Homo sapiens: one gene and its partners. The protein of the gene in region 1 purifies or fractionates together with the protein of each later gene. This does not show direct contact. Each region holds a gene or a part of one and is shown in the gene's direction. Other genes may lie near its edges.

The links.
Region 2: the proteins of POLR2J3 (region 1) and RPAP1 purify together in Homo sapiens (affinity purification with mass spectrometry, with the first as the bait; one large-scale study listed by BioGRID). This does not show direct contact.
Region 3: the proteins of POLR2J3 (region 1) and GPN2 purify together in Homo sapiens (affinity purification with mass spectrometry, with the first as the bait; one large-scale study listed by BioGRID). This does not show direct contact.
Region 4: the proteins of POLR2J3 (region 1) and DUSP3 purify together in Homo sapiens (affinity purification with mass spectrometry, with the first as the bait; one large-scale study listed by BioGRID). This does not show direct contact.

Annotation. Positions count from the first base shown.
Region 1 is NC_000007.14:102,566,686-102,575,495, reverse strand, and holds POLR2J3 (DNA-directed RNA polymerase II subunit RPB11-b2), read left to right. Parts: upstream 1-2,912; 5' UTR 2,913-2,974; coding exon 2,975-3,024; intron 3,025-5,571; coding exon 5,572-5,661; intron 5,662-7,311; coding exon 7,312-7,486; intron 7,487-8,412; coding exon 8,413-8,445; 3' UTR 8,446-8,530; downstream 8,531-8,810. Other genes in the region: uncharacterized protein LOC124901712, read left to right, coding at 1,572-1,689. UniProt on the Homo sapiens protein: DNA-dependent RNA polymerase catalyzes the transcription of DNA into RNA using the four ribonucleoside triphosphates as substrates. Component of RNA polymerase II which synthesizes mRNA precursors and many functional non-coding RNAs.
Region 2 is NC_000015.10:41,523,758-41,531,832, reverse strand, and holds part of RPAP1 (RNA polymerase II-associated protein 1), read left to right. Parts: intron 1-630; coding exon 631-810; intron 811-1,853; coding exon 1,854-1,969; intron 1,970-2,264; coding exon 2,265-2,363; intron 2,364-3,496; coding exon 3,497-3,598; intron 3,599-3,805; coding exon 3,806-3,973; intron 3,974-4,227; coding exon 4,228-4,410; intron 4,411-4,531; coding exon 4,532-4,666; intron 4,667-4,764; coding exon 4,765-4,935; intron 4,936-6,684; coding exon 6,685-6,842; intron 6,843-7,578; coding exon 7,579-7,737; intron 7,738-7,860; coding exon 7,861-8,062; intron 8,063-8,075. UniProt on the Homo sapiens protein: Forms an interface between the RNA polymerase II enzyme and chaperone/scaffolding protein, suggesting that it is required to connect RNA polymerase II to regulators of protein complex formation.
Region 3 is NC_000001.11:26,875,943-26,882,843, reverse strand, and holds the end of GPN2 (GPN-loop GTPase 2), read left to right. Parts: intron 1-3,094; coding exon 3,095-3,167; 3' UTR 3,168-6,712; downstream 6,713-6,901. UniProt on the Homo sapiens protein: Small GTPase required for proper localization of RNA polymerase II and III (RNAPII and RNAPIII). May act at an RNAP assembly step prior to nuclear import.
Region 4 is NC_000017.11:43,767,413-43,775,487, reverse strand, and holds part of DUSP3 (dual specificity protein phosphatase 3), read left to right. Parts: intron 1-549; coding exon 550-776; intron 777-5,673; coding exon 5,674-5,879; 3' UTR 5,880-8,075. UniProt on the Homo sapiens protein: Shows activity both for tyrosine-protein phosphate and serine-protein phosphate, but displays a strong preference toward phosphotyrosines. Specifically dephosphorylates and inactivates ERK1 and ERK2.

The DNA of each region.
Region 1 (8,810 bases):
GGTCAGGAGTTCGAGACCAGCCTAGGCAATAAAGTTGGACCCCATCGCTACAAAAAGTAAAAAGAAAAAAACTAGCAGGGCGCCGTGGTGCCTGCCTGTGGTCCCAGGTACTGGGGAGGCTGAGGCAGGAGGACTGCTTGAGCCCAGGAGCTTGAAGCTGCAGTGAGCTATGATCTCACCACTGCACTCCAGCCTAGACAACAGAGCCGAGATCATGCCACTGCACTCCAGCCTGGGCGACAGAGCGAGATGCTATCTCAAAAAAAAAAAGAAAAAAAGAGAAAAAAAGAAAAAAAGTGATAAGGGTAATAATTCCCTGAGGATATAACCTCCACACTTCTGGGTCACCCTGGAAAAGCTTGGGTCAAGGATGCTACCCTTGGCTAGGAACAGTGGCTCACGCCTGTAATCCCAGTACTTTGGGAGGCTGAGTGCAGTGGCGCAATCTCGGCTCACTGCAACCTCCGCCTCCCGGGTTCAAGCGATTCTCCTGCCTCTGCCTCCCAAGTAGCTGGGATTACAGGTGCCCACCACCACGCCCGACTAATTTTTTGTATTTTTAGTAGAGATGAGGTTTCACCATGTTGGCCAGGCTGGTCTCTAACTCCTGACCTCAAGTGATCCGCCTGCCTCAGCCTCTCAAAGTGCCAAAGTGCTAGGATTACAGGCGTGAGTCACCGCACCCAGCCTACCCATATCACTTTCTGTTCCTCAGCAGTTAAAGAGGTGCCCACCCACTTCGCCTGGAAAGTCAGATTCTGTGTGGGGCTGTTGCAGAATGAGATTTCCTCCTGCCAGGGTGCAAGAACTCAAGTAGGAAATGGGCCTTCCCAGAAGGGGTAGATGCTCCAGATTTCCTCAGCACTGTAGCTGCTGCCCAGCCTTGGAGAAACAGCTGCCAAACTGTTAGGGCCCTGGTAGCTCCTCTGAGACCCCAGTCCCTGTTGCTTCAAACAGCTTAAGGAGGGCCTTTATGCTAAACTGTAGTCTGCAAAGCAACCAAACCAAAAAGGGTAAGATACACTTATCCACCTGTAGGGTCCAGCCCCACAGGGTCGGTGGGTTTCTCTCCATGTGCAGAGACGAGAGAGCGCAGAAATAAAGACACAAGACAAAGAGATAAAAGACAGCTGGGCTGGGGGGACCACTACCACCAAGACGCAGAGACCAGTAGTGGCCCTGAATGCCAGGCTGCGCTGATATTTATTGGATACAAGACAAAGGGGCAGGATAAGGAGAGTGAGCCATCTCCAATGATAGGTAAGGCCACATGGGTCACGTGTCCACTGGACAGGGGCCCTTCCCTGCCTGGCAGCCGAGGCAGAGAGAGAGAGGAGAAAGAGAGAGAGACAGCTTACACCATTATTTCTGCTTATCAGAGACTTTTAGTACTTTCACTAATTTGCTACTGCTATCTAGAAGGCAGAGCCAGGTGTACAGGATGGAACATGAAGGTGGACTAGGAGCGTGACCACTGAAGCACAGCATCACAGGGAGACGGTTATGCCTCCGGGTAACTGTGGGCGGGCCTGTGGAGGAGTAGAGTCTTCTCTAAACTCCCCCGGGGAAAGGGAGACTCCCTTTCCCGGTCTGCTAAGTAGCGGGTGTTTTTCCTTGACACTAACGCTACAGCTAGACCACGGTGGGCTTGGCAACAGGTGTCTTCCCAGATGCTGGCGTTACCGCTAGACCAAGGAGCCCTCTGGTGGCCCTGTCCGGGCATAACAGAAAGCTTGCACTCTTGTCTTCTGGTCACTCCTCACTGTCCCCTCAGCTCCCATCTCTGTATGGCCTGGTTTTTCCTAGGTTATGATTGTAGAGCGAGGATTATTATAATATTGGAATAAAGAATAATTACTACAAACTAATGATTAATGATTCATATATAATCATATCTCAGATCTATATCTAGTATAACTATTCTTATTTTATATATTTTATTATACTGGAACAGCTCGTGCCCTCGGTCTCTTGCCTCGGCACCTGGGTGGCTTGCTGCCCACATCCACCAAGTGCACTTTGGGAGGCTGAGGCTGGAGGACTGCTGGAGGCCAGGAGTTCAATACCAGCCTGGGCAACATAGGGAGACCCCCCCCCCCACCATCTCCAAAAATAAAAAAAAAAATAGCTAAGTGTGATGGCACATGCCTGCAGTCCTAACTATCGGGAGGCTGAGGCAGGAGGATCTCTGGAGCCCAGGAGTTGGAGGCTGCATGATGGCGCCACTGTACTTCAGCCTGGGCGACAGAGGGAGACGCTGTCTCTAAATAATAATAATAATATATAAAAAGATATACGTAACCCTACGGGCTCCCCTCTCACTGCTGTATACACCTGCCTCCTTCTGCATCCCTCACCCAATTGTCCCTCCCGGCTAACAAGCCAGCTGCACCCCCCAGGCAGAGGTCCTGCAGCAGTCGGTATAGGCAGCCTGGGCAGGGGGCTTGTCATAGATCTGCCTCTGGCCACGAGATCTTCTGCTCCCCCTACGGCTGCTAGCCGCAGCTGTCCACTACCCCTTAGCTTTATTCTCTCTATTCAGGGGCCTCCTGCTGCGCACTCCAAGGGGGTGCACGTTTCCAAAGAGAGATCAAGGGACATGGGGAAAGGAGAAAGGTACAGCTTGAGGTTCCCGCTCAGCCAGGACTAGGAGGCCTCTGTAGGGGCAGAACAGCCCTGCCGGCGCTCTGAGCATGCGCCGAAAAGCGCCCACGGGGAAAGCCATGCCGGGGTGCGGGGTGGGGGGGTGGGGGGGGGGGGGGGCGGTGCGCTCGCCACTGACGCATGCGCAGAGACACTGGTCTCGCTCGGGGTTTTCTCGCGCCTGCGCAAGATCCTCCAGCCCAACAGGGGGCGATGAGCCGATCCTTGCGCGGGTTTGCCCCGCCGGAGTAATCCGGAAGAGGCCTCTTATTAGGGCTCTGGTGGCGGCGGTGGCGGACACTTGGGGTCTGGACGCAACGGCGGCGGGAGCATGAACGCCCCTCCAGCCTTCGAGTCGTTCTTGCTCTTCGAGGGCGAGAAGTAAGTGACGCCGGCTGCGGAGGGCCGAGGTGCGCGGGCCTGCGGCTGTCGCATTCTGGGGTGTCTCCTGCCCATCTCTTGCCCCGGGAGGGAAACAGCTTTTGCTTGATCGTCTGCTCGGCCTGTGTCAGCCAAATTTAAGGCCGTTCCGCGAGGCAGTCGCGAGTGTGTTCATTTTGCAGATGAGGACACTGAGGCTTGGAGGCGAGCAAGTTGCCCCGGACACAGGAAGTGGCGGCGCTTGTATTCGAACCCAGAGTGTCTGGTTCTCCATAGCCCTTTTCCTCTGGGATCTGGCAGCTTCCTCTTTTTGTCTCTCGCCCGCCACCTCCATCCTTCATCCCCTCCGATCTGTCAGCGGCCTGCGTAAAAGCCGCAGTGGCTCCTCGCTGCCTGCGGGTTGAAGGAGTCCAGGGGAGAGAGCTTGGGCTCACTCTGTATCTGTGGGCGAGTGGCTTGATCTGTCGGAGGCCCTGTTTCCTCATCTGGAAAATGAGTTTATTACTGTACTTAAACGTGGGATTCAGGCCGGGTGCGGTGGCTGACACCTGTAATCCCAGCACTTTGGGAGCCCGAGGCGGGCGGATCACCTGAGGTCGGGAGTTCAAGACCAGCCTGACCAACATGGAGAAACCCTGTCTCTACTAAAAATACAAAATTAGCCGGGCGTGGTGGCAGATGCCTGTAATCCCAGCTACTCAGAAGGCTGAGGCAGGAGAATCACTTGAACCTGGGAAGTGGAGGTTGAGGTGAGCGGAGATCACGCCATTGCACTCCAGCCTGAGCAACAAGAGCGAAACTCCGTTTCAAAAAACAAAAAAAGGGATCTGGCCAGGTGCGCTGGTTCACGCTTTTAATCCCGGCACTTTGGGAGGCTCAGGTGGGAGGATTGCTTGAGCTGAGCACAGGAGTTCCAGGCTGCAGTGAGCTTTGATCGCATCACTGCACTCCAGCCTGGGCGACTGAGCGCAATCCTGTCTCAAAATAAAAAGAATTGGATGAGGTAATTTGTGTAAAACTCTTGGTCCAAAGCTCAGCCCCTGGAAAACCTCATAACCATTGGCTCTTATTGTTCCCAGGTTGGCGTGCAGAGGTCTTGGTCTGGCCCTTGCCAGCCACTTCGGCCTCCTTTAGAGCAGACTCTCAACTGGGGACCATTTGGCCCCACAAGGGACATGTGGCAATAACTGAGAACATTATTGGTTGTCAAAGGGGGTTATGACTGGAATCTACTGGGTAGAGGTCAGGGATGCTGCTGATGTCCTACAATGTCCACAAGACAGCACCCCACAGGAAAGAATGATGCACCCTAAAATGTGTGTGGTGTCAGCCTGGAGAAACCACCTTAGAAAAAAGGATATTCAACTTGATACCTCTCACCTGTGTGAGATTTTACTGTCAGCATAGTTGCCCTCAAATTGAGTGTGCATTAGAATCACCTGAAGGGCTTCTTAAACCATAGATCCCTGCGCCCCACCTCCAGAGTTCTGGGTCCAGTAAGTGGGAGGTGGGAGACTCTTAACAAGTTCCCAGGGGATTCTGATGCTGCTTATCTGGGAACTGCACTCTGAAAACCCCTTGTCTTGGAAAATCCAATGGAAGTTTCCTGTCTTTGTCCATCTAAGCGTTCACTAAAATCATAGTAAATGCCAGAGCATGACTTGTTTTGGGGAATGGATGGAAGGACTGCACACTCCAGCCAGGGGGATGGTTGCTTTCGGAACTCACAGGGTCAGGACCAGCCTCACCGTGTAACTTCAGGGCCTCTCTTCTTCACCTTTTGGTTGCTTCATTATGTTGGCGTAAGAAAAAAGGAACAGGCCAGGCATGATGACGTGCGCCTGTGGTCCCAGCTACTCAGGAGGCTAAGGCGGGAGGATCACTTTAGCCGAGGAGTTGGAGGCTGCAGTGAGCTATGATCACACCACTGCACTCCAGCCTGGGCAGCAGGAGAGATCATTTGAGGCGAGGAGTTCAAGACCAGCGAGGACAACAAGGCAAAACCCCATCTCTACCGGAAAAAAAAAAGGAGGAATTCAGAAAAGGCCAAGGTTCCATAGACCTGGGGTAGCAGGAAGTAGGGGACCGGGTTGGCGAGGCCTTTATGGGATGAAGAGATTGAGAAAGGCCTTCAGGAAGAGGCAGAGCTTATTTTTCCTTTTTATTTTTATATTTTTGATACAGAGTTCCACTCTGTTGCCCAGGCTGGAGTGCAGTGGCATGATCTCGGCTCACTGCAACTCCACCTCCCAGGTTCAGGTGATTCTCCTGCCTCAGTCTCCCAAGTAGCTAGGACTACAGGCATGGATCACCACACTCAGCTAATTTTTTTTTTTTCTTTGTATTTTTAGTACAGACAGGGTTTTGCCATGTTGGGCAGGCTGGTCTTGAACTTCTGACCTCAGGTCATCCATCCACCTCAGCCTCCCAAAGTGTTGGGATTACAGACACGAGCCACCACACCTGGCCGGGAGGAGACAGGGTTTAGACTCAGGGTGGGAGGAGGGGAGCCCCTGCTCCTCATCTGTGGCCTCTGTGTCTTCCTAGGATCACCATTAACAAGGACACCAAGGTACCCAATGCCTGTTTATTCACCATCAACAAAGAAGACCACACACTGGGAAACATCATTAAATCGTAAGTTTCCCGTCACAGGCTCTCAGGGGCTATGTTTAATGGGCCCCTCTGGGCAAAGCACAAGTTCCAAGTCTTCCTCAGTCTCTCTGAGCTACAGGAAGTCCTTCTGGGGGCTTGCTCTGGGCATTTTATAATCTTGGTACCTTTTTATCAAAATGACACCGACCTCCATGTCTTCACATAAGCCACACTTCTGTAGTGGCTTATTCTGTAGATGAACACGTGCATTTACATTCACTGTTTGTTTGTTTGTTTGTTTTTGAGATGGAATTTTCTCTCTTTGTTGCCCAGGCTGGAGTGCAATGGCACGATCTTGCTCACTGCAACCTCCGCCTCCCGGGTTCAAGTGATTCTCCTGCTTCAGCCTTCCTAGTAGCTGGGACTACAGGCCCACGCCACGATGCCCGGCTAATTTTTGTGTTTTTAGTAGAGACGGGGATTCACTGTGTTGGCCAGGCTGGTCTCGAACTCCTGACCTCAGGTGATCCACCTGCTGGCTTCCCAAAGTGCTGGGATTAGAGACGTGAGCTACTGCGCCCGGCCTTACATTCACCATTAAGTGCACATTCTGTAAATGAACGAGCAGCAGATTCCAGCACAGTAGGCCTGTTTGTTATTCATGCTGAGGGACATTGAAAAGCAGTCAAGATTAGCTCCCCTCATGCCACCCGTTTGTGACCTCAGTGCCACCTGGGCCTCTAAGATGTATGTGGCAGAGACTAGAACTTCTATTTAACAAGAGAAAGAAGTAGGAGTTCTGTGGCTATCCAGTGCCCCTAATGGGCACCCTGCATTGGTTGGTGGGTGTTTGTTTATACCAGTGAGGTCCTAGCCAGGTGGTTGGTCAGGGATGTGTCTGCCATTCTGGCCCAGGGACTTGCCATTTTACTGTAGACTTGGCTCTTCCCTCTGGTGCCACCAGCGAAGCCAGGCTTTTCCCCGTCTGTGAGTGGGGTCTGCCCAGTCTCCTGGTGTGGTCAGGCACGGGGATGGAGGAATCCTGCCCGGAGCCCAGCCAGTGGGGCACCCAAGCTCTCCTGGGGCCCTGCTGCTCCCCTGCTCTTGAGCTCAGTGTTGCCACCTATGCACGGGTCCCCCTTGTGGTGCTCACGCCACTCTGAGCCACTCTAGAGGAGACCCCTGCATGCCCAGGGCACAGTACGCGATGCAGCCCCATGGCACAAGGCCCAGTGTGCGTGGCCAGCCGCTGGCGGCTGTGCTGCTCGGAGGGCAGAGTTCCATTTGCATTCCACTCACTGCCGGGAGCTGGCCCTCCTCTCCTGCTGCCTTTATTTGCTGCGTGGAGGCTCTTTGTGGGCTTTTTGGGTCTGAGTCACTGAACACTGGCTGGACATTCACTGCCTGGGAGATCTCTTTGCCAGCACTGCGGTGCCCGGTGGGAAGAGGTTGCTGGAATCTCTTTCCAGCTCGGGTCCTTCAACCTCATGGATGCAGAGTGTGTGTGTGTGGCGGGGATAGGGTGTCCCCACATGAGGTATCTTCCTAAAAGTGTTACTTTCCTTGAAGACTTTTTGGGAAAAAAGTTGGGGGGGATTTTTGGCTAGAAAGTCTGTTCTTCTGCTCTGAGCTGGCTGCTACCCAGCTTGGGCATGAGGCTAGACCCTCACACTGTCTGTCCCTGGACCTCAGACAACTCCTAAAAGACCCGCAAGTGCTATTTGCTGGCTACAAAGTCCCCCACCCCTTGGAGCACAAGATCATCATCCGAGTGCAGACCACGCCGGACTACAGCCCCCAGGAAGCCTTTACCAACGCCATCACCGACCTCATCAGTGAGCTGTCCCTGCTGGAGGAGCGCTTCCGGGTGAGGGCGGGGCCTGGAGGGGCAGACGGGGTGGGCTGGACACTGGCCCGTGTGCCCAGGCCTGGGACAGCCCTGGCCTGTTTCTTCGGAGGTCCTCAGGGAGAGGCGGCGGTGATGGAAGAACAGGGACTTCCACCACAGGCTCCAGGACATGTGGACTGAGGGGCTGTGGAGTCTGGGCCTGTGGCTCCCGTCTGCCCCATGGGACTTCTGTAGTGCTGCAGGGTCCCTCGGGTGCTGTGGGCCAGATCCGGGCGGGGACCTACTGTCCTTTGGGGGTGCTCTTCTACGTCCCTTGTCGGTGATTGGCAAGGCCTGGTCCTTCCAGGCCTCTGGGAGGCAGCTCACCCCAGGGTGGCCCACACCTGTTCCTAGCAGGGCGCCTGGGAATCTAGAACAGTTTAGAGGGGAAAGAGCCACAGCAAAGAAAAGCCGAGGCAGGGTGATCACGAGGTCAGGAGTTCAAGACCAGCCTGGCAAACATGGTGAAGCCCTGTTTCTACTAAAAATACAAAAATTAGCTAGGCATGGTGGCATGTGCTGTAGTCCCAGCTACTCGGGAGGCTGAGGCAGGAGAATCGCTTGAACCCGGGAGGCGGAGGTTGCAGTGAGCCGAGATTGTGCCACTGCACTCCAGCCTAGGTAACAGAGCAGGACTCCATCTCAGTCAATCAATCAATCAATCAATCTCAGCGGTTGAACTACCCTTGACATGGTTCAGCTCTGTATCCACACCCAAATGTCATGTCAAATTGTAATTCCCAGTGTTGTGGGAGGGACCTGGTGGGAGGTGATTGGCTCATGGGGGCCGACTTCCCCCTTGCTGTTCTCGTGATATTGAGTGAGCGCTTGTGGGATCTGGTTGTTTAAAAGCGTGCAGCCCTCCCACTTCACTCTCTCTGTCTCTCCTGCTCCAACATGGCCAGACGTGCCTGCTTCCCCTTCGCCTTCTGCCGTGATTGTCAGTTTCCTGAGGCCTCCCCAGCCACGCTTCCTGTACAGCCTGCAGAACTGTGAGTCAATTAAACCTCTTTTCTTCATAAATTACCCAGTTTCTCATAGTTCTTTATAGCAGTGTGAAAACAGACTAATGGACCCTTCTGGTTGAAGGAATGCAGCCATTCTGCTTGTTTGACTATGTCCTTTCTATTCATCTCTATTTCCTGGGAGGTGTTTATCCAAGTGCAATAGGAGGTATTGGTGACCGCACAGTCCCCTCAGTGTTCTGCTAGTAAATAGTTGAAGGTTGATCATTGATCTTCTGCGTTTTCAGTCTGGCATGGAAAAGCCCCTGTGCAACTGGTAAAGATATCAATAAGCACCA
Region 2 (8,075 bases), on another chromosome or scaffold:
CCCGTCTCTAGTAAAAATACAAAAATTAGCCAGGCGTGGTGGCAGGCACTTTTAATCCCAGCTACTCAGGAGGCTGAGGCAGGAGAATCCCTTGAACCTGGGAGATGGAGGTTGCAGTAAGTTGAGATTGCACCACTGCACTCCAGCCCGGGCGACACAGCGAGATTCCGTCTCAAAAAAAAAAAAAAAAAAAAAAAAAAAAAAATATATATATATATATATATATATATATGTGTGTGTGCATAAATAAATTAGCTAAGAGAAGGAAATTCTTTCTGTAAATGCCTTCTTTTTGGCCCTAGTCAACATTAACTTATTCATTCTACAGCCACTTACATTGGAACTGTGACCTGAAACCAAAGGGATAGGCATAGGAACCTGGGCCAGTGGACTGTGAGGGATAGAGGGAAAGGTGGGCAGGTGGGCAGGTGGGCCTAGTGACCCCACAGGTGTGAGAAGGCTGGGTCATTGATGGGCCACAGGAGCACCCAGAAGGCTCAGGCCCAGGCTCGGAAGCAGCTTGTCCTGTCCTTGGCACCCACAGACAGGCGATATTCAGCGGGTTCCAGGTCTGTAGGAGGCCAGGGAGGATCTACCCTCACTCACTCTCCCCTCTACCTTCGCCTCTAGACCCCAGCTTGGTTGCTTTCTTGAGATCTCACAGCCACACGCAAGAGCAAACAGGAGAGACAGCCTCTGAGGAGCAGAGGCCAGGAGGACCCTCTGCTAATGTCACCAAGGAGGAACCCCTCATGTCAGCTTTTGCCAGTGAGCCCAGGAAGAGAGACAAGCTGGAGCCAGAAGCCCCAGGTTTGCAGGAGGCGGGGGTCATATTTTGGTGGATAAAAGTAGGGGAAATTGTCCCTTTTCCTAGGCCTGGCAAATGAGAGAAGAGAGAAGCTTCTGTGCTTTTGGACATCTAACATTAATCCTCATTATTGGCTTCAAGTCAGTCTTCATTGCTGATGCATGTCTTCTTCCTGCACATGCTTCCTGTTTTCTTGTCCTGTTACTGCCCCTTCTCCGCCTTCCCTTTTAAGAGGCAGCAATGCGTGATGGCTGAATCCCACTCCACCCGCTCCCGGCAGACTATCTTCCTGTCCTTGCTGTAGCTGCCCCAGCTCTGGCTCTGTCCATCCCACTGTTCTTTCTCTCTCTGCTCACAGTGCTGGGGGAAAGATGGCAGGGCCAGAGTAATAAGAGAGGCAGAATCTGACAAAGATCTTATGAACATGCCAGACCAGAAGCAGAGAGGCCAGTGGAAGCACTCATTTCCCAGAAACTAGATTATTTCATTAGTGATTAACAAAATAAGAAATTGAATTATGAGAGCCAGGAACCTCATGCCCCCGGAGGAGCTCCAGGCCAGCTGAGCAGGTTGGGTGGGGGTAGGCGTGAAGGAGGAAAATGCTGTGGGATTTGTTTCTGTATCCTGCCCCCCAGGAGCAGTATAGTTGCCTCCTCCTCATTGTCCCCACTCTCCTACTCCTTTAAGGGCTGGTACTGGAAAGTGGAGATGGTGCCTTCCTGACATATGTGGTCCTCCTTCTTCATCTTTTTCTCCTTTCTTTCTCTTTCTTCCTTCTCCTTCTCCTCCTCTCTCCCCTCCCAACAAATCCTTGGGGTCAGCAAGGGGCTGGAGCCCAGGATGGAGTGTGTCTGTCATATTTGAGACTTTCACCCCAGCCCCAGGAGTTCCAGTCCCTGGGCCATGCCATTTAGCCATAACCGAGGGTAGAAGCTGGCAGATCCTGGAACAGAAGTGGATGTGGCAGCTGCTGGGTGATGGTGGGGACCCCTGTGGATAGTGAGCTGAGCCGTTTGGGTAATACTATCATGCTTTGTCTCCCCAGCTCTGGCATTGCCCGTGACCCCTCAGAAAGAATGGCTGCACATGGACACTGTCGAGCTGGAGAAGCTCCACTGGACCCAGGACTTGCCCCCTGTCCGGCGGCAGCAGACACAGGAGGTGAGGAGGGCCACCTGGCCTACAAGGGGTGGGTGAGATAGGGCAGGAGAGGAGCTGCTGCTCTTGCCCTCAGAACTCAGGCCTTTCTATTGCCCAGAGCCTGAGAAGCATCTCTCCTTTGCTCTCACCCACCTTTACCATCACTCTGCCTGGCCCCCAAGGCCAGATAAGCCCCATTTCTGGTAGAAGTAGAGTCAGTACCTAAGTCCTGAAAGGCCTGGGATTAAAGGTGGGGAGTGGGTGTGGGAAGGTTGCTGGAGCCCCCAGACCACAGTCCTCTTTCTCTTCCCATTAGAGGATGCAGGCTCGATTCAGTCTTCAGGGAGAACTACTGGCCCCTGACGTGGACCTGCCCACCCACCTGGGTCTGCACCACCATGGAGAGGAGGCAGAGGTGAGGCATGGGACTGGAGAGGATGGGGCAGCTCTTTTAACAACCCCATGGAAAAGGATCTCTGGTCAACTGCCTTTGACCTTCTGTGTGCCCTGTTCTAGTTCATGCCTTTGCTGTGCATTCAGTTTCTTTTTTTGGAGACAGAATCTCGCTCTGGCCCAGGCTGGAGTGCAGTGGTATGATCTTGGCTCACTGCAGCCTCCACCTCCTGGGTTCAAGCCATTCTCCTGCCTCAGCCTCCTGACTAGCTGGGATTACAGGCGCATGCCACCACGTCCAGCTAATTTTTGTATTTTTAGTAGAGACGGGGTTTCACCATGTTAGCCAGGATGGTCTTGATCTCCTGAGCTTGTGATCCGCCTGCCTCGGCCTCCCAAAGTGCTGGGATTACAGGCGTGGCATTCAGTTTCTTAGGCTCAAAATCTTGATCCTCTCTCCGTATTCTGGTCAGTTGCTAGAATTTGCCGATCTTCTGTCACCTCCTCATGATGCCTCCTGCACTGTGGCCTTGCTTCCTTGGTCTGCTCACTCTCCATGCCCTCCATTCTCCGCCCCCCTGCCATTCCATGTCTCTCGGGGCTGCTGTGCTGATTTCTTCTGGCCCAGCTCAGGCCATGCCTTGCCTCCAGAAGTTTCCCAGCTTCCCTCTGCTCACAAAATAAGGTTCTGGTCTCAGCTGGGCAAGATATTCCTTCTACCTTTTGTCCCTGCTGACCCTGCTGCTCTGCCTCCTTCACTTCCTGCTACACCACTCTGCTGGCTTCTCCCCACATACCTCCTGTGCTCAGGGCCCTCCAGGACTCCACTCGCTCCAGGAAATGCCTTTGCCTTTTGCTCCATGTCAGGCCATCAAAGCTCTACCCATCCACTGAGACCAATTTAATTTTCCAGGTTCCCTTCTCTCTCTCTCCTGTCCGCCGGTCGCAAATTAAACATCAGTTATCACGTTCCTCTGCATCTGCCTCATGGCATGGTTACTTGTATGCAAGTCTTATCTTTACCGGCTTGAGGCTCCATGGAAAGCAGGGCAGATTTCACTTATTTATCTTTGTCTTTCCTGTGATACCTTGCTTGGTGTTTTGGGGGCACTGTGCTGTATCCTGGCTGCTTCTGACTTCTTGTCCCTGCCCCAGAGAGCGGGGTATTCCCTACAGGAGCTGTTCCACCTGACCCGCAGCCAGGTTTCCCAGCAGAGAGCACTGGCACTGCATGTGTTAGCCCAGGTCATCAGCAGGGTGAGTGGATTGCCAGCCTGGTCCTGCCCACCCTTCCCTTCACCCCACAGCCTCAGACTTCCCCATCTCCTGCCCTTTTCACTCTGGCTCACTAGCCAGCTATGTGCTTTTAACAACCTAGGATCATAGGGGGGCAAACGAAGGATTAGGGCAAAGCCTCTAGATAACTTCAGCATCTTCAGCAAGGTTTTACCCTCCTGCCCTCAGGCCCAGGCTGGTGAGTTTGGGGACCGGCTAGCAGGCAGTGTCTTAAGCCTCCTTTTGGATGCTGGTTTCCTCTTCCTACTGCGCTTCTCCTTGGATGACAGAGTGGATGGGGTCATTGCAACCGCCATCCGTGCTCTTCGGGCTCTGCTGGTGGCTCCTGGAGATGAGGTACCACAGGGATAGGAATGGGGCTTGGGCTGGGAGGTGCCAGGGTCCATATTCCTGTTCCTGGGCATGGCCCCATTGCTAAGGCTTTGCGGGCAAGATGTAGAATGGGATGGCAGGCGTCTCCCTCATCTCCTAAAGTCCCTAAAGCCCAGGAGGCTTGCCTTTATGGTTTTTATTGGGGAGCATCCTCTCTACTCCTGGATCCATTTCCTGGCCCCTTCAGCATTGCCCCCCAACTCCCGTTCCTCTGGCAGGAGCTCCTCGACAGCACCTTCTCTTGGTACCATGGAGCTTTGACGTTCCCTCTGATGCCCAGCCAGGAGGACAAGGAGGATGAGGACGAGGATGAAGAATGCCCAGCAGGAAAAGCAAAAAGGAAAAGCCCTGAAGAAGAAAGCCGGCCTCCACCTGACCTGGCCCGACATGATGTCATCAAGGTAAAGGGACAGCTTCTTTCCCATCCCATGGCCCAGGGGACAAGCACATGCTGGAAAGAGGGGCCATCAATGCCCAGGGTCCAGCTGCATTTGTCAGTGGGTTTCTCTCTCCAACTCCCAGGGGCTCCTGGCTACCAGCCTGCTGCCTCGGCTGCGCTACGTGCTGGAGGTGACATACCCAGGACCTGCGGTGGTCCTTGACATCCTGGCTGTGCTCATCCGCCTGGCCCGGCATTCCCTGGAATCAGCCACAAGGGTGAGAAAAAAGGGAGCAGGGAATGGGCAAAAAGCCTAGCTGGGCCTTGTCTTGACCCACAGCCTCCCTTCCTCCCTTTTACCTCCTGTCTCCCATAGGTCCTGGAGTGCCCTCGGCTGATAGAGACTATAGTTCGAGAGTTCTTGCCCACCAGTTGGTCTCCTGTGGGGGCAGGGCCTACCCCTAGTCTATACAAAGTACCCTGTGCTACTGCCATGAAACTACTTCGTGTCCTGGCCTCAGCTGGGAGGAATATTGCTGCCCGGCTGGTGAGCAGGACACAGGGCAAGGGATGGGGGAATGCATGGGACAGGGTTGGGTTGGGAGCTAAACATGGCTCCTGAACTCTGGGTGGCCAGCTCTTGCCATCTTCTTCCTCTCTGATCCAGTTGCTTAGAAATGCAACAGAAATCACCAGGCATGAACCTGTTTACTGGAGCCTGTTTACTGGAGCCTGGTGCATCATATAGGTATACTGTGGTCTCATGATGTAATAGGAGGTCTCCCTGTTCCCTAGACCCAGATCAGAAGGGCTTCATGCACATAGGCATTCATCATCTATAGCCAAGTAGCCCTAGAGAAGGTGCCCAGCAAGCCTTGCTATAAAGAGGGAGGGCTGGGTGTAGTGGCTCAGGCCTGTAATCCCAGCACTTTGGGAGGCCAAGGCAGGAGGATCACTTGGGGCCAAGAGTTCAGGGGCCAGCCTGGACAACATAGCAAGACTCTGTCTCTACAAAAAACAAAAACAAAAAATTAGCTAGATGTGGTAGCACATGACTGTAGTCTCAGCTACTCGGTAGGCTGAGGTAGAAGGATCACTTGAGCTGGGAGGTGGAGGCTGCAGTGGGCTGGTTGCACCAATCACTGCACTACAGCCTAGGCAACAGGGCGAGACCCCGTCTCAAAAATACTACTACTGGCCAGGTGCAGTGGCTCACGCCTGTAATCACAACACTTTGGGAGACCGAGGTGGTGGATCACTTGAGGTCAGGAGTTCGAGACCAGCCTGGCCAATATGGCAAAACCCCACCTCTACTAAAACTACAAAAATTAGCCAGGTATAATAGTGTGCGCCTGTAGTCCCAGCTACTTGGGAGGCTGAGGCAGGAGAATTGCTTGAACCCGGGAGATGGAGGGTGGAGTGAGCCAAGATCACACCACTGCATTCCAGCCTGGGTGGCAGAGCAAGATTCCATCTAAAAACAAATAATAGGGCCGGGCGCGGTGGCTCACACCTGTAATCCCAGCACTTTGGGAGGCCAAGGCAGGTGGATCATGAGGTCAGGAGTTCAAGACCAGCCTGACCAAGATGGTGAAACCCTGTCTCTACTAAAAATACAAAAAATTAGCCAGGCGTGGTGGCATGCGCCTGTAATCCCGGCTACTCCAGAGGCTGAGGCAGAGAATTGCTTAAACCTGGAGGGGCAGAGATTGCAGTGAGCCGAGATTGCGCCACTGCACTCCAGCCTGGGCGACAGAGCGAGACTCCATCTAAAAAAATAATAATAATAAAAATAAAAAAATAATAGGGGCTGGGTGCGGTGGCTCACACCTGTAATCCCAACGTTTTGGAAGGCCGAGGTGGGTGAATCACGAGGTCAGCAGTTCGACACCAGCCTGGCCAACATAATGAAACCCCGTCTCTACTAAAAATACAAAAATTAGTCGGGCATGGTGGCGCATGCCTGTAGTCCCAGCTACTTGGGAGGCTGAGGCAGGAGAGTCTCTTGAACCTGGGAGACAGAAGTTGTGGTGAGCCAAGATCACTCCACTGCACTCCAGCCAGGGCAACAGAGCAAGACTCCATCTCAAAATAATAATAAATAATAAAAAGTAAAATAATAAAATTGAAATTTTAAATAAATAATAAGAAGGAAGGGCAGGGTGGATGAGGTATGACTTTGTGGCACCAGAGGGGCCTGGGTCAGGGTTGAGTTAAGCCACTCTCTGTCCAGCTGAGAGTAGCTGGACTTGAGACTCACAGCTGACCCTGATCCTCAGACTGTGCCCATTTCCAGTTGAGCAGCTTTGATCTCCGGAGCCGCCTGTGCCGCATCATAGCTGAGGCTCCCCAAGAACTGGCCTTGCCCCCAGAGGAAGCTGAGATGCTGAGCACCGAGGCCCTCCGTCTGTGGGCTGTGGCTGCCTCCTATGGCCAGGGCGGTTACCTTTACAGGTGAGGAGAGGCAGGGGGTAGGCTCCCCCTAGACACCTTCAGTTCTGCTCTTCTGGCCAAATCAAACACCTCAGCCTTGCTCAAGGTCCCAAGCTTGGAGGAAGGATAAGAATGAGTGGGAGGGCTTCTGCCAGATGTGAAAAGGCTTAGGAGTCAGGCCCAGCCAGGGAAGAGGGGGATAAACCTGGCTTAACCGTATTCTATGCTCAAAATCATTAGCCGGGCACTGTGGCTCATGCCTGTAATCCCAGCACTTTGGGATGCCAAGGTAGGCGTATCACGAAGTCAGGAGTTCGAGACCATCCTGGCCAATATGGTGAAACCCCGTCTCTATTAAAAATACAAAAATTAGCCAGGCGTGGTGGCACACACCTGTAATCCCAACTACTCGGCAGGCTGAGGCAGGAGAACCGGTTTAACCTGGGAGGCAGAGGTTGCAGTGAGCCGAGATCACTCCATCACTCCACTGCACTCCAGCCTGGGCAACAGAGAATGTCTCAAAAAAAAAAAAAAAAAAGCATTGGTATCTGTGAAATCACATTTAAATTCCCTGTTGGGGGCAGCCTTGAAGGACAACATCCTTTCCATTCTTTAGGGCTGAGCCTTCCAAGAGTGCCCCACTCTTCCTCCTCATCCTCCTTTATCAAACTGCAGATCCCTGGGTCAGGGCCATGACCTGTGTCTCATGTCTCCACTTGCTTTCATACAGTGAAAATCAGTCCCTGTTCTTCCCTAGGGAGCTCTACCCAGTGCTGATGCGGGCCTTGCAGGTGGTGCCGCGGGAGCTCAGCACCCACCCACCTCAACCCCTGTCCATGCAGCGGATAGCCTCACTGCTCACTCTCCTCACCCAGCTAACCCTGGCAGCCGGCAGTACCCCTGCTGAAACCATCAGGTAGTTTATAGCCAGGACCCACAGGACAGGTGGAGGGCTCCTCCACAGGGCTGGGGTGGCTGGAGTGTAAAGGGGCGTGAGGCAGCCAGATCCTCACTGTGGCACCCTTTGGCACTTTTGTAGTGATTCTGCTGAGGCCAGCCTCTCGGCCACCCCTTCCTTAGTCACTTGGACACAGGTGTCTGGGCTCCAGCCTCTTGTTGAGCCGTGTCTAAGGCAGACCTTGAAGTTGCTGTCCAGACCTGAGATGTGGAGAGCCGTGGGCCCAGTGCCCGTTGCCTGCCTGTTGTTCCTGGGAGCCTACTACCAGGCCTGGAGCCAGCAAGTGAGTGCCTCCT
Region 3 (6,901 bases), on another chromosome or scaffold:
CAAGAGCTGGCAGATGTGCTGTGTTCAGGGGTCCATGGGACATCCAGAGCTGTCCAAGAGGCAGCCAGACTTTTGGAGCTTGGTTAGTGACTAATGAGGCTGGAGCCAAGGTCATGGGTAGGTGTCCATCAGGTCACAGAGGCCATGCGTGAAGCAGGACAGAAAAGTCCAGGCCCTCTAGGCTGATGCTCTCACAGATTCAGCATCTATGCAGCATGCTGGAGACAAGGGGGACTCAGGAGTCTTAGGGTATAGAGGAAAATAATTCCAGCCAACACTTACTGATGTTTCTCGAGCCATATGTGGGAAACAAAGCTCATGGGGTCGGGGTTGGAGGAATGACTTATAAATGATGGCAGTAGAGTGTGCAGTCCCTGATGAAGGTACTAAGGAGCTGCGTCACACCTGCAGTTAATGTAGGCCAATTGGACTGCATGTGCTCAGCAAAAGAGGGGAGGAGCAATTTTTTTTTTAAATTTAAGATGGACTTTCTTTTGCTGTTGTTGCCCAGGCTGGAATGCAATCTCCAACTCCAGGGTTCAAGTGATTCTCCTCCCTCAGCCTCCTAAGTAGCTGGGATTACAGGCATGCTCCACCACACCTGGCCCTTTTTTTTTTTTTTTTTTGAGACGGACCGTCAATCTTGTTGCCCCAGTTGGAGTGCAATGGTGCAATCTCAGCTCACTGCAACCTCCATCTCCCACGTTCAAGCAATTCTCCTGCCTCAGCCTCCCGAGTAAGTGGGATAATAGGCGCCCGCCACCACGCTCAGCTAATTTTTTGTATTTTTAGTAGAGACAGCGTTTTACCATGTTGGCCAGGCTGGTTTCGAACTCCTGAACTCAGGTGATCCACCTGCCTTGGCCTCCCAAAGTGCTGGGATTATAGGCGTGAGCCACCATGCCCGGCCTGCAACTTTTATATTTATTTCTTAGAGGCAGGGTCTTGCTCCTTTGCCCAGGCTGGAGTGCAGTGATGCAATCATAGCTCACTGCGACCTTGAACTCCTGGGCTCGTTACCCTCCCACCTCAGCCTCCCAAAGTGCTGGGATCACAGGCATGAGCCATCGTCCCCAGCTGGGAAGGGCAGTTTATGTTTGTTTATTTTGTGAGGCAGAGTCTCACTCTGTTGCCCAGGCTGGAGTGCAGTGGCGTGATCTCAGCTCACTGCAGCCTTGACCTCCCTGGGCTCAAGTGATCCTCCCACTTCAGCCTCCTGAATAGCTAGGACTATGGGCGTGTGCCACTGTGGCCAGCTAATTTTTGTAGAGATGGGGTTTCACCATACAGCCTAGGCTGGGAGAAGCAATTTAAATAATGTAGTATTTTGTACACCGTACAGATGGTTCCCAACTTATGATGGCTCAACTTTATGATGGTGTGAAAGCTATATGCATTCAGTAGAAATCATACTTTGGGTACCTATCAATCATTCTTTCACTTTCAGTACAGTATTCAATAAATTACATGAGATATTCAATACTTTATTGTAAAATAGGCTTTGTGTTAGATAATTTTGCCCAAATGCAGCTAACGTAAGTGTTCTAAGAATATTTAAGGTAGGCGAAACTAAGCTATGATGTGTGGTAGGTTATGTGTATTAAATGCATTTTCGACTTAAGATATTTTTGATTTAGGATGGGTTTATCAGGATGTAACCCCATCATAAGTCAAGGAGCATCTGTACGTTACTTTATGTATTCGTATATATAAAGGATTCTATTCACAAAACCATGTATGCTGCATTTAACAAATAATTTGAGGAATTTTAAAGAGTATTTTTAACCATATACATTTGTGCTGATTTTAGATTCTGCCCTGACCCTAACCCCCTTAAGATTCAGCAGCTCTCTGTAAGAGAGTAGGGACTGATACAAATAAGGGAGTGGTCAGCTTTGCTGAAGGGTAGGTGGGTAAGGAAAGCTTTATGGAGGCATGACACGTGAGTTGTGTCATTTCAAGGTGAGGGTTAGCCAGTCTAATGAAGAAGAAAAGGGAATTCAAGTTAAGAGAACATGCAAAGGCATAGGGGTTCAAAGTTGAGACAGGTTTCAAGGGTTGCAAATAAGATGGCATGGGCCAAGTGTAATGGCTTCATGCCTGTAATTCCAACACTTTGGGAGTTAAAGGTGGGAGGATTGCTCAAGGCCAGGAGTTTGAGACCAGACTGGGTAACATAGTGAGACCCCATCTCTCTCTCTTTTTTTTTTTTAAAGTATAAAAATTTATTTTTGGCCAGGCGTGGTGGCTTACGCCTGTAATCCCAGCACTTTGGGAGGCCAAGGCGGGCGGATCACGAGGTCAGGAGATCGAGACCATTTCTGTCAACATGGTGAAACCCTGTCTCTACTAAAAATAGAAAAATTAGCTGGGTGTGCTGGCATGTACCTGTAGTCCCAGCTACTCTGGAGGCTGAGGCAGGAGAATTGCTTGAACCAGGGAGTTGGAGGTTGCGGTGAGCCGAGATCGCGCCACTGCACTCCAGCTTGGTGACAGAGTGAGACTCTGTCTCAAAAAAAAGAAAAAGAAAGGTCTGTAACTCGAACATCATTTGGTGGGCTAAGTGCTTTACTTGCAGGGTCATTTAATCCTCATTTCAACCCCTTTTATAATTGAGGCGACAGGCCCAAGGTCCCTCTCCCGGGATGTTTTGGAAGAACAGTTCAAACCTTGGTTTTGGTGGGTGTAGAATCTGTTTCTTACTTTGGAGCCATCTGGTAGTACAACAGCCATGGTGTCCTAACATAGCCAACCTAGCCATGGCTAACCTCCATGTCCTCGTCAGACCCCAGACCCAGACATCATCAGGTTTTGAACTCCCTTAGTCTGGCTCCAGAGCATGTGCCATAACGCAAAATTGCAAGGTTAGTACTGTCCAGTCCTTTGATCCGCAGCAGTGTGTGGAAGAGGCAGATAGAGGAGCATTTGAGTCTGGGTGTTTTTGGAGGCTTCTCATACCTGATTGGTCCCTATAATTATGAGGAAGAGAGGGATGGACATGGTTGGAGTGTAGGCATCAGCGGAAGTCAGATCCTGCCCAGACCAGCTCCCCATCCTCTGCCTATGCTATCAGCCTTGACGCACCCTTCCTCAGCACACTGGGCATCCAGGAGAAGTACCTGGCACCCTCGAACCAGTCAGTGGAGCAGGAAGCCATGCAGCTGTAGCAACAAGGTGGACCCTGGAGAGCAGGATGCATAATCCAGCACTGGGGAAAGTGGAGGCTCCTGATGCAGGCTGCAGACCCAAGAGCAAGTCCTCCCAGCCAGAGCTGGCGGGCTGGCAAGGGGATATTCAGCTCTGCAAAGGACTTCTGGCCAAAAAGCCAGACATGGTGCCAAGCAGAACACCCCCCATACTGTCAGTGGTGTCCGTGAGCTCTGGGCCCTGCCACCAGAAAGTCGAGCACTGGTCCTAGTCAGGCTGTGATGAAATGTGCTACAATACAAGAGTTTATTTTCTACTTTTTGTGACTTCCAAACTTTTCTTCAGTCTTCCGGGCCCAGGGGTTTGGGGAAGAATGAGGGAGTGTCACCTAGCCTTGGAATAATCAGTATTTCCCCAAAGCATATAATTCACATTCAGTCACATAGGATTTACATTCAGTCTCCAGTCATGTGTTTTTATTAATCTTCAGTTTTTGGTTCTGAGGTTTGTTTTTTAAAAGATGGGGTCTTGCTATATGGCCCAGGCTGGACTCAAACTCCTGGGCTCATGTGATCTTCCCGCCTCAGACGCCTGAGTAACTGGGACTACAGGTGTGAGCCACCATGTCCCACAATTTTCAGTTTTAACAGAGCCTCAAGCTTCAGCTTTCACAGGCAACACTTCCTAACTAGAACTTTGTTAATGTTTTATATTCACTGTATTTGTTTTATGGTTTTATTCTATTGTTGACAAGTGTTAACTAGTTTTCCATTTACAGTAGTGGTTAAAAGTTTACTTCAAGGCTGGGTGCGGTGGCTCACGCCTGTAATCCCAGCACTTTGGGAGGCCGAGGCAGGCGGATCCCAAGGTCAAGAGATCGAGACCATCCTGGCCAACATGGTGAAACCCCATCTCTACCAAAAAATTTTTTTAATTAGCTGGGCATAGGTGGCGCGTACCTGTAGTTCCAGCTACTTGGGAGGCTGAGGCAGGAGAATCATTTGAACCCAGGAGTCAGAGGTTACAGTGAGCTGAGATTGCACCACTGCACTCCAGCCTGGTGACAGAGCGAGACTTTGTCTCAAAAAAAAGGTGTACTTCAAAAATGAAATACAAGGCTGGGCGTGTTCACTCATGCCTGTAAGCCCAGCACTTTGGGAGGCTGAGGCGGGCGGATCACCTGAGGTCAGGAGTTCGAGACCAGCCTGGCCAACATGGTGAAACCCCTCTCTACTAAAAACATAAAAATTAGCTGGGCATGGTGTTGCACGCCTATAATCCCAGCTATTGGGGAGGCTGAGGCAGAAGAATTGCTTGAACCCAGGAGGCGGAGGTTGCAGTGAGCCAAGATTGTGCCTACATTCCAACCTGGGCGACAGAGCAAGACTCTGTCTCAAAAAAAAATAGTAAGTTGTGTAAAGAAAAATATTAATTATATAATATGGCAGTTCCTATGAGAGTGTGGCAAAAATCAAGAGGGCTTGGAAGTTTTTTCTTTGCTCTTGCAACTGGCTGGATGCAGTTCATATATTTTTCAACCAGTAGGTGGCACCCCAACCTAATTTTTTGCAGTTGTAACCTGGTGGCAGAAGGGGCAGGACTGATGGCTTGGGCAAGACTGTTATGCCAAGTTTTATTTGCATGTATTTGGACTTTCTTTTTTTGGAGACAAAGTCTCTCTCTGTCGCCCAGGCTGGAGTCCAGTGGCACAATCTCGGCTCACTGCAACCTCCGCCTCCCAGGTTCAAGCAATTCTCTGCCTCAGCCTCCCGAGTAGCTGGGATTACAGGCGCCTACCACATGCCCGGCTAATTTTTGTATTTTTAGTAAAGACGGGGTTTCACCATGTTGTTCAGGCTGGTCTTGAACTACTGACCTCATGATTTACCCGCCTTGGCCTCCCAAAGTGCTGGGATTACAGGCGTGAGCCACTGCACCCGGCCACATTTGGACTTATTAACACATATGAAGTGCTTGGTATTTTAGAGTGCTTCCACACACACAATCCTCATTAGAGATAGACAGGATGGGGAGAATTAATAAGCCATTGCCCGTGTTACAGTGAGGAAGCAGAAAGATGAGAAGTTTGAACTTTGGTCAGCCTGGCTTTCTCATAACCCATTTTGCTGACTAAATTGCGAGTATCCCTCCTTTGGTATATTTATTGGTGAGAAGTCACAGCCCTTGTCCCACAGGTTTTGCAGCCAATCAGGAGAAAGAAATTAGGCACCTGTAAAGTATTACTGAATCATAGATAGTTCACCAGTGGTTTGGGCAGTTGGCAAATTAATTTAGGGACATCTGTTCTGAAACAGCATTGAAATAGGACTGACTGCTTTGCTTTCTGGTTGTGGCAGCCAGAGCCAAAGGCAGATGAATGAGGGGCTATGAGGAGGCTACTGTGGCTGGAACAGTATGAAAGCAACCTCAGCTCCCACGCCTGGCTGTAAAGGGGATAATAACTGGGTGCTGCTTCCCAGCCTCTTTCATCTGAGAAGTTCAAAGCACCTCACCCCTATTAACACCCCACAGAGTAGGTAGGAAGTACCAATAGAGCAAGCCAGGAAAACTGAGGCCAGGAGGCACAGCCTGGGGCTAGCTGTGAATCACCTGTGGGGCCTAGAGCCCAGGAATCCTGACGCCCAGGCTACTGGACAAATCCTTTATCAGGGCATTAGGGTGGGTGCTATGCTTTTGAAAGCAGTACCAACGGCTGTGGTCGTGGGTTTTGATGCTTGCCACTCACAGAGGCCCCAGCTCTCACCATAACAAACCAAATGGGGGCTGGAAGGCATCCTTTACAACTTTATGGTCTCGTATGCAAGCACCCTCAGCATTCTCTGCACCCATGGAGTGGAGATGGGTGGGAGTAATCCAAGGCCTTTATTTTCAGGCCATGGTTTGACAGCAAGGGTATTTTCTTCCCCAATAAACGTAGCTTCTGTCTACCTTCCACTGGCAGCAAAATGATTTTCTGTTCTCTGCATATACTGAGGGGATCTGCACAGTGCAGAAAGGAAGATGTCCGAGATCCAAGTGAGGCCTGTTCAGTGTGAAATGTCTAGGGTAGAAGAAAGACCATCCTCCATTATGGCTGGCATGTGGCAGTCATCCTTAAGATTATTTTTAAATTTCCTAATAAATATAGGAAAGTAAAAAACTTAGAAAATGAAAGAGAAGGCCGAGCACGGTGGCTCACGCCTGTAATCCCAGCACTTTGGGAGGCCAAGGCGGGCTGATCACCTGAGGTCAGGAGTGTAAGACAAGCCTGACCAACATGGTGAAAACCTGTCTCTGCTAAAAATACAAAAAAATGAGCAGGGCATGGTGGCATGCGCCTGTAATTCCAGCTACTTAGGAGACTGAGGCAGGAGAATCGCTTGAACCTGGGAGGCGGAAGTTTCAGTGAGCGGAGATCGCGCCATTGCACTCCAGCCTGGGTAACAAGATGGAAAGTACATCTCAAAAAAAAAAAAAACGAAAATGAGTCACCCAGAATCCCATAACGGAAACTTTCTATGGGGTCATCTGTTTAAGAGAAAAATAAATTCTATATTCAAATGTATATTTTGTGTATTCTCTTTTTTTCTCATCTCTGTAAATACCTGGAGATATTTTATGTATTCTTTCAGCCTTATTTTTATACCTGGGGTGGATATTGCATTTATATAAGTGGGATATTTTATAATTGTGTTGTATCCTGCCTTTTTCAGTTAACACCATTCCATGTAATAAAAAATAGATACAATTCCTG
Region 4 (8,075 bases), on another chromosome or scaffold:
TCTGTCAATGGAATAGCCCATTTAATACTCATAACAACCTCAAGGAGAAGGCACTGTTATCCCCATTTTACAGAGAGGGAAACTGAGGCACAGAAAGGTTAAATGGCTTGCTTAAGGTTGCCTGGCTAGTACCTGGGCAGGATGCAGACCCAGTTAGTCTGGTTCCAGAGCCCATCTGTAACCAGTTGGCTATGTACACCCCCACCACAGCTTAGGGAGCATGGGGCCAAATGGAATGGAGGGGAGACAAACACTGCGGAGGGTGTGAAAGATGAGAGGGCGCATTTCTCCAGAGAAGGTGGGAAAGAGCATTCCAGACAGAGGGGACAGCATGGCTATGAAACCACCAGTCTATTTGGGGAAGCTGCTGGCAATTCGATATGGCCAGAGTGAGGGAAGAGGTCATAAGATGAGGCAGGAGAAGCTGGCAGGGGCCAGAGCATGGAGGGTTTCCTTGCTTTGCTAAGAGGCTTAAATCCTTCTCCATCTTCCTCCCCCTGGGGCTGCCATTTGGTTGGTTAATCATCCCCACCACTGTCTCCTGTCCAGGTCTGTGGCTCAGGACATCCCCAAGCTGCAGAAACTAGGCATCACCCATGTGCTGAACGCGGCTGAGGGCAGGTCCTTCATGCACGTCAACACCAATGCCAACTTCTACAAGGACTCCGGCATCACATACCTGGGCATCAAGGCCAACGACACACAGGAGTTCAACCTCAGCGCTTACTTTGAAAGGGCTGCCGACTTCATTGACCAGGCTTTGGCTCAAAAGAATGGTAAGGGACCTCCCACCAGGAAAAGATGGGAGGCAGCTCTGACTGGACTGTCCCTCTGGAAAACAGGCCCACAACAGGTCTCTTCTTAGAAACTCCCTTGTTTCCCATCTTCTGGGGTGAACGACAGAGCTGTAGGTCTCTCTCTGCTCACCTGGCTGGCTGTCAAGTGGCCCCGTGTGTCACAGGATGTGCAACTCATTCACACCATGGCAGCCCCAGGGTCCTCGCGTTTGACTGCACTTTGGCTGGAGGTTGGTTTCCAGTTGCTTACACGTCCCCCATTCAAACAGCTGTAACGATGAGGAAGATGTGTTAATGTGTTAATGTGCATGGCAAGAAGTCCTGAGGTGAAGGAGCATGGGGGCTGGTTGATTAAGGGGCTGCTTGATTCAGCAGCTCCATGGTGGCCTCTGGACCAGGCCCTTTCCCTTTCTCTCTTCTGCCACCTCAGTGTTGGGTGCTCCCGTCATGGTCCCAAGATGGGATCCAGTCACCACATCCAAGCAGGACAAAGTACAGCAGATGAGGCCCTGCAGCCATCTCTTCCCACTCTTTTTTTTCCTCTTCTCTCTCTCCTTTTTTTTTTTTTTTTTTTTTTTTAGATGGAGTTTCACTCTTGTTGCCCAGGCTGAAGAGCAATGGCGCGATCTTGGCTCACCGCAACCTCCACCTCCCAGGTTCAAGCGATTCTCCTGCCTCAGCCTCCCGCCTCAGCCTCCCAAGTAGCTGGGATTACAGGCATGCGCCCCCACGCCTGGCTAATTTTGTATTTTTAGTAGAGATGGGGTTTCACCATGTTGGTCAGGCTGGTCTCCAACTCCTGACCTCAGGTGATCCGCCTCCCTCTGCCTCCCAAAGTGCTGGGATTACAGGCATGAGCCACCGCGCCTGGCCACTCTCTCTCTCTTTTTTAAAGAGACAGGGTCTTGCTATGTTGTCTAGACTGGTCTCCAACTCCTGGGCTCAAGCAGTCCTCTCACCTCAGCCTCCTGAGTAGCTGGGACTACAAGCACGTGCCACCATGCCCAGTCTCTCTCTTTAAGAACAAGTAAAACATTTCCCAGAAATACCCCTCACATCTCATTGGCTAGAGATTCACGTGATTGCCTGGCAAGGAGAAAAGGGGTAGCTGCGGTCAGCTTAGGTTGGCAGTCAGCAAACCACAGCCCCCCTGGCCAAATCTTCCAGCCACTTACGAAACACTTCCTGCAGCCCCCAAATATAAGATAAGACTGAAGGAGAACTACCAAGGCGCTGGCAGTCACCAAGGCATTCCAGCAAGAAACCCTAGAAGGCCACAAAGCAGACATCAGCTGAGCAGGCTGGGCCACTTGCCCTTTCTCCCTTTCTGCTTTTAGCTGTTTCTCTCAGCTCCTCCCTTTACCTCTTCGTCTCTCCCCACCCCAAACCCTCCCAGCGGAGGGGACCCCCATGAGGTGTGAACAGCCTTGGCTGTACTACACTGATGACTCTTGGGCCCAGCAGGCTCACTGTCTGAATGATTTCCAGTAAACAGAATTTTCTAGACCACTGGACAGTGAACGCTCAGGGCTCAGAGAGAAGCTTTACTGTGGAGTATCTGCAGACTTTGCTGACAGGCCCCTCATGGTCCTTCCTGGTCACTGTCACCCCCCAACCCTGCTCACCTCCTCCACTCCAGCTGTACTGAGTTCCTCACCCTGTGTAAACATAGGCTGGGCGAAGGGGAAGGATTTTGTTGTTCTCGTATAATAGCAATTGGTTATTCATTCAGGGAATTTCAAGCTCTCTGACTTTGTTTCCTCTTTCCAAACAACTAGGAACACGCCCTTTTTTTGACCTGTCTCAGTCCAGGTGTGCTGGGTCTTTAGTCTGAAAAGTTCTCTCTGCCTCTCCCTACCCCTTCCTCTGGCAAACTCCACCTTGTCCTTGGCATGGTGTCCTCTCTTCCATGAAGCCTGCCCTCAGGCTGGGTCTACTTTGTTCCTTGTCTGTCTCCTTAGCACCTGATGTAGCATCAGGCACATAGTAGGTACACTGCAAATGATGAATGAGCAAGTGATGAAGAATTCCATGGGCTCTAATGCCAAGTATAAATGCTTCTAAGAATGAGTGGCGAAGTGAGTCAACAGAAACATGCTGGCCTCCAACAGTGTGTGGGGCCCAGGGACCCATCACTGAGAGCTGGGTGGGATGGCTGAGGGTACTCAAGAGGGAGCAGTCACTTCTAGCTGGGAAAACAGCTTCATGGAGGAGGTGGCATCTGGGCTGAGCCTAGAGGAATGGGAGGTTGAACTGGCCCCTTTCCCAGTAGGCTCTGTGTGCACTGGGCATGCAGAGTATGTTCTAGATGGTAAGGTGGCTGCTCTGCAGAGGGTCTCATTCCTAGGGTGGGGCAGGGGAAGCCCCACTCTGAATATTTCGGGCATACAGGCCGGAGGGTGAATGGGCAAGAAAGTGGAGGACTCCTGCTTCCTGATTTGGAAGGCATTGGGAAAATAGAGTGGTGTTTTGGGGGTAGGGTGATAGGAGCAGAAGAGACTCTGTTGGACTCTGGGCTAGCAGATTCCTTGCCAAACAATGGCCTTATAGAGGTGTTAGTAGGTAATAATTCACTCAGCTAGTCAGCAAATATTTATTGAGCACATAGTGTATGCTAGAGATTGTAACGCATCCAAAAATCAATGCCCCACATTTCTTGCCTTTTTTTTTTTTTTTTTTTGAGACGGAGTCTCGCTCTTGTCACCCAGGCTGGAGTACAGTGGCTCAATCTCAGCTCACTGCACCCTCCACCTCCCAGGTTCAAGTGATTCTCCTGCCTCAGCTTTCTGAGTAGCTGGGATTACAGGCATGTGCCACCATGCCCAGCTAATTTTTTGTATTTTTAGTAGAAACGGGGTTTCGCCATGTTGGCCAGGATGGTCTCGAACTCCTGACTTCAGGGGATCCGCCCACCTCGACCTCCCAAAGTGTTGGGATTATAGGTGTGAGCCACCGTGTCCGGCCATTTCTTGCTCTTAAAGAATTCGTCCTCTGGGAGAGAAAAGTCAATCTGCGCATGTCTGGCAATGACACAGGACCAGGGCTGCTGTAGTTGAGGGTGTACTAGGTGCTACCAGAGGATGCCCAGTATTGGGTAACATTTATTGAGTGCACATGGATGCCAGGTGCTAACCTAGAGGATTCATGTGTCCTCTCCTTTAATCTAACCACCTTGTGCAATGGGTACTATTGGCCAGATAAGAAAACTGAGGCACCTTGAGGTTAGGTGGATCATGAGTTAATAACCAGTGTATTGGTCAGGATTCTCTAGAAAAAACAGAACCAATAGAATATACAGTCGGTCCTCCATATCCGTGGGTTCCACATCTGTGGATTCAACTAACCTCAGTCTGAAAAATATTAAAAACAACATAAAAAGATGTTATGTCTGTACTGAACATGTACAGATTTTTTTTCTTGTCATTATTCTCTAGATGATATAATCTAATAAATGTTTACATTGTCTTGGGTATCATAAGTCATCTGGAGATGATTTAAAGTATAGGGGAGGATGTGCTGTGCAGAGGTTATTTGCATATATGATGTCATTTTATAATCAGGGACTTGAGCATCTGTGGATTTGGGTATCGGCAGGAGGTCCTGGAGCCAATCTGCCCTGTGGATATTGAGAGATGGTGTCTATTTATATATATATATATACACACACATACACACACACACACACACACACACACACACATATATATACACGCACACACACACTATATTAAAATAACCCCACCTCTACTAAAAGATACAAAAAAATTAGCTGGGCATGGTGGCATGCGCCTGTAGTCCCAGCTACTCAGGAGGCTGAGGCAGGAGAATTGCTTGAACCCGGGAGGCGGAGGCTGAAGTGAGCCGAGATCGCGCCACTGCACTCCAGCCTGGGCAACAAGAAGGAAACTCCATCTCAAAAAAAAAGAAACAAAACACTACCAGCACCCTGGAAAGCACCCCCAGTCTCTATGCTCCACCACCCCCATCCCCAGCTCCCAGGGCCTCTGCCACGCGGGCTTCTTTTTTTTTTTGAGACAGAGTCTCGCTCTGTCACCCAGGCTGGAGCACAATCTCAGCACAATCTCACCTCACCGCAACCTCTGCCTCCTGGGTTCAAGCAATTCTCTGGCCTCAGCCTCCTGAGTAGCTGGGATTATAGGCTCGCGCCACCACACCCAGCTATTTTTTTGTATCTTTAGTAAAGACGGGATTTCACTATGTTGGCCAGTCTGGTCTCGAACTCCTGACCTTGTGATCCAGTTGCCTTGGCCTCCCAAAGTGCTGGGATTACAGGCGTGAGCCACTGTGCCCAGCCCCTTGCAGGCTTCTGACAGCACAGATGGTTTTGCCCGCTTTCCTACTCTGTGGGCTCATCCACCTCATATGTGTGTGCTGCCTCCGTGTTGCTTCTGCTAAGTGGCAGTCTGGTCATTCTTTGTATTTGTCCTTTCTACTGTGGATGGGCCTTTGGGGGTTTCTAACTGTGGGCCATGATGTGCAGTGTTGCCTGTGAACATTCTGGCCCATGTTCGTGAATGTGAATGCGTATCTCTATTGGACCTGGGCCTGGGAGTGGGATTGCTGGGCCAGAGGGGATGCACGTGTTCAGCTTGAGGAGATACCGCCGTGCCGCACAGCTTTCCAAAGTGGTTGTGCCAATTCACGCCTCACCTCCCCCAGCCACGCAGAAGAGTTCCAGTTGCCCCATATCTTCACCAGCACTTTGGGTTTTCCATCCTTTTCATTTTAGCCATTCTGACAGGCACACAGTGGCGTGACATTGTGCTTTTAAGTGGCACTTCACGGAAGAGTCTTGACCAACGCCATGGTGTGATGGGACGCCCCCAGCTCACCACGTCTCCCCTGTTTCTTACAGGCCGGGTGCTCGTCCACTGCCGGGAAGGTTATAGCCGCTCCCCAACGCTAGTTATCGCCTACCTCATGATGCGGCAGAAGATGGACGTCAAGTCTGCCCTGAGCATCGTGAGGCAGAACCGTGAGATCGGCCCCAACGATGGCTTCCTGGCCCAGCTCTGCCAGCTCAATGACAGACTAGCCAAGGAGGGGAAGTTGAAACCCTAGGGCACCCCCACCACCTCTGCTCGAGAGGTCCGTGGGGGAGGCCGTGGGCAAAGGTGTCCCGAGCTGCCATGTTTAGGAAACACACTGTACCCTGCTCCCAGCATCACAAGGCACTTGTCTACAAGTGTGTCCCAACACAGTCCTGGGCCACTTTCCCCACCCTGGGGAGCACATAAAGAAGCTTGCCAAGGGGGGCGTCCTTGCTCCCCAGTTGTCCTGTTTCTGTAACTTATGATGTCTTTTCCCTGAGATGGGGGCTCAGAGGGGGAAGGCCTGTGGCCTGCATGCTTCCCGATGGCCCACGGCAGGAGGTGTGTGGAAGTGTAAGGCCTAAGATGCTCACAGAGGTCCCTCATGACCTCCCTTCCCCAACTCCCGAATCCTCTCTTGAGTGTGGACCTCAACACCTTGAGCCCTAGTAAAGGAACTATGCAAATGCAGGCCACTCTCCCCACCACGTCTGTGCCCTGCACTGTCCCCACAGCCTTCCACACCCTGTGCATAGGCAGCCCTCTCACGTCTTGAGGTCCGAAGCTGGGGTGGGGGTGTCCGTCAGTTATTAGTGGATGGAGATTCCCACAGCAAGGCTGCATTTGAATGATTTCCTTAGGATGAATGGTCCCTACACAAAGAGGCCTTGTGGGCAAACCTGGAGAACCCTCCTAAATCCATAGAGTTTTCAAAATGTGAATCTTTGGAAGCCTTGAGTTCAGAATCTGCTGCTCTGGAATATTTCCCTTCGATCTTATCTCAGTCACTTCGTTTTTGAGAAGAGTGATGCCTTGGGCATGCTTTTTTTTTTTTCTTTTTTAGAAAACAGGGAGTTGAAGTCCAACCTATTTAAAAACCCCACCATTTGGAGAATTACAAGGGTTTTGTCCTGAATTGTAGTGTTGGCAAGCCCAAGCCACTCGTGCTAACTGCTTTTTGTCTCGGTTGCTATTCCAAGAACAGAAGGAGGAAGTTGGCCAATTACAGCGTGTGTGCATGGATGTGTGTGGGGGGCGTGCCTCTCAGAAACGCGGCCAGAAGACAAGCAGGGAAGTGAAAGGTCCCAGGCACACACCCTGCCCATTGCAGGTGGCTCTTACAGCTCTCTGGTGCCAGCACGGGATCCCTGAAGTGACTCAGCCAGGCAGACATGAGACATGGCGGAGTGTCCAAATGGATCCTTTATTGGTGGTAGAGCAAAAAAACCCAAACACGATAAACCTTTCAAAAGACTTTCTAAGGATGATATTGGAATGCACCAGCCCTCACATGTGTATGCACATTTGCCAGAATATAAGAGTTTTGTTTTAAATACAGTCTTGTTAGGATTTTACGTTATTGTTATTATGGAAAGTGATTGTGATGCTATTTATCTTCAGGGTCACTCTGGGCAAAGAGAAGGTCCTCAGCCATGCCCCCAGCACCTTGCACATAGGTGTCTGATAAAAGTTTAAGAAAGTAAACACTTTTTGAGCACCAAATATATATAGGGCATTGTTCTGGTGGGTGTGTCACGCTCCCAGAAGACTGAATTCATGGTAGGATCACTCGCAAGGCCTTGTGAAGGAGTCTTACCTAAAACGAAAGAAATATCAGGGACTTTTGTTGACTATTTACAACTCAGTTTTACATTTAAATTCAGGCAGTGTTAATATGCCAAGGTAGGGAATGTGCCTTTTTCAGAGTTGGCCAGGAGCTCCTGGCTGGGACACGGAGAGGCAGGTGTGGCGTAAGGCCTCACTCCCGGCTGGGAAGGTCTCTGATCACACAGAAGCAGCCCTGCCCAGCCTGGTCATTTGCTGTCCGCTTTTCTCTGTGACCACAGCAGCCCTGAACAACCAGTATGTGTCTTCTTCTCCAGATAGTGAAAAAGGTGTCCAGATAAACCCACCTAAGTGAAATGGCCATCCTCTAAACTGGGTACCTCACTGCACAGCTTCTAGGTAGCCTTCCAACTTAATCTAACTTGAGCCTCACAGTAACCCTGTAAAGTTAGTAGAGCTTGTTCTTGTATTGTGACCTTTTTTAAAAAAAAGGAACTGAGGTTCAGAATGATTAAGGGCCTGGCCCCCAGGGTTGTCCAGCTCCATAAGGTGGAGCTGGGCAAGATTTTGGGTTTGCTGCTCCCTGAAGCTGGATTCTTTCATACGATACTCTTTCTCAAGAAGGGGGCTCCCTGGGATCTCCAGGTGTACTGCACTTACC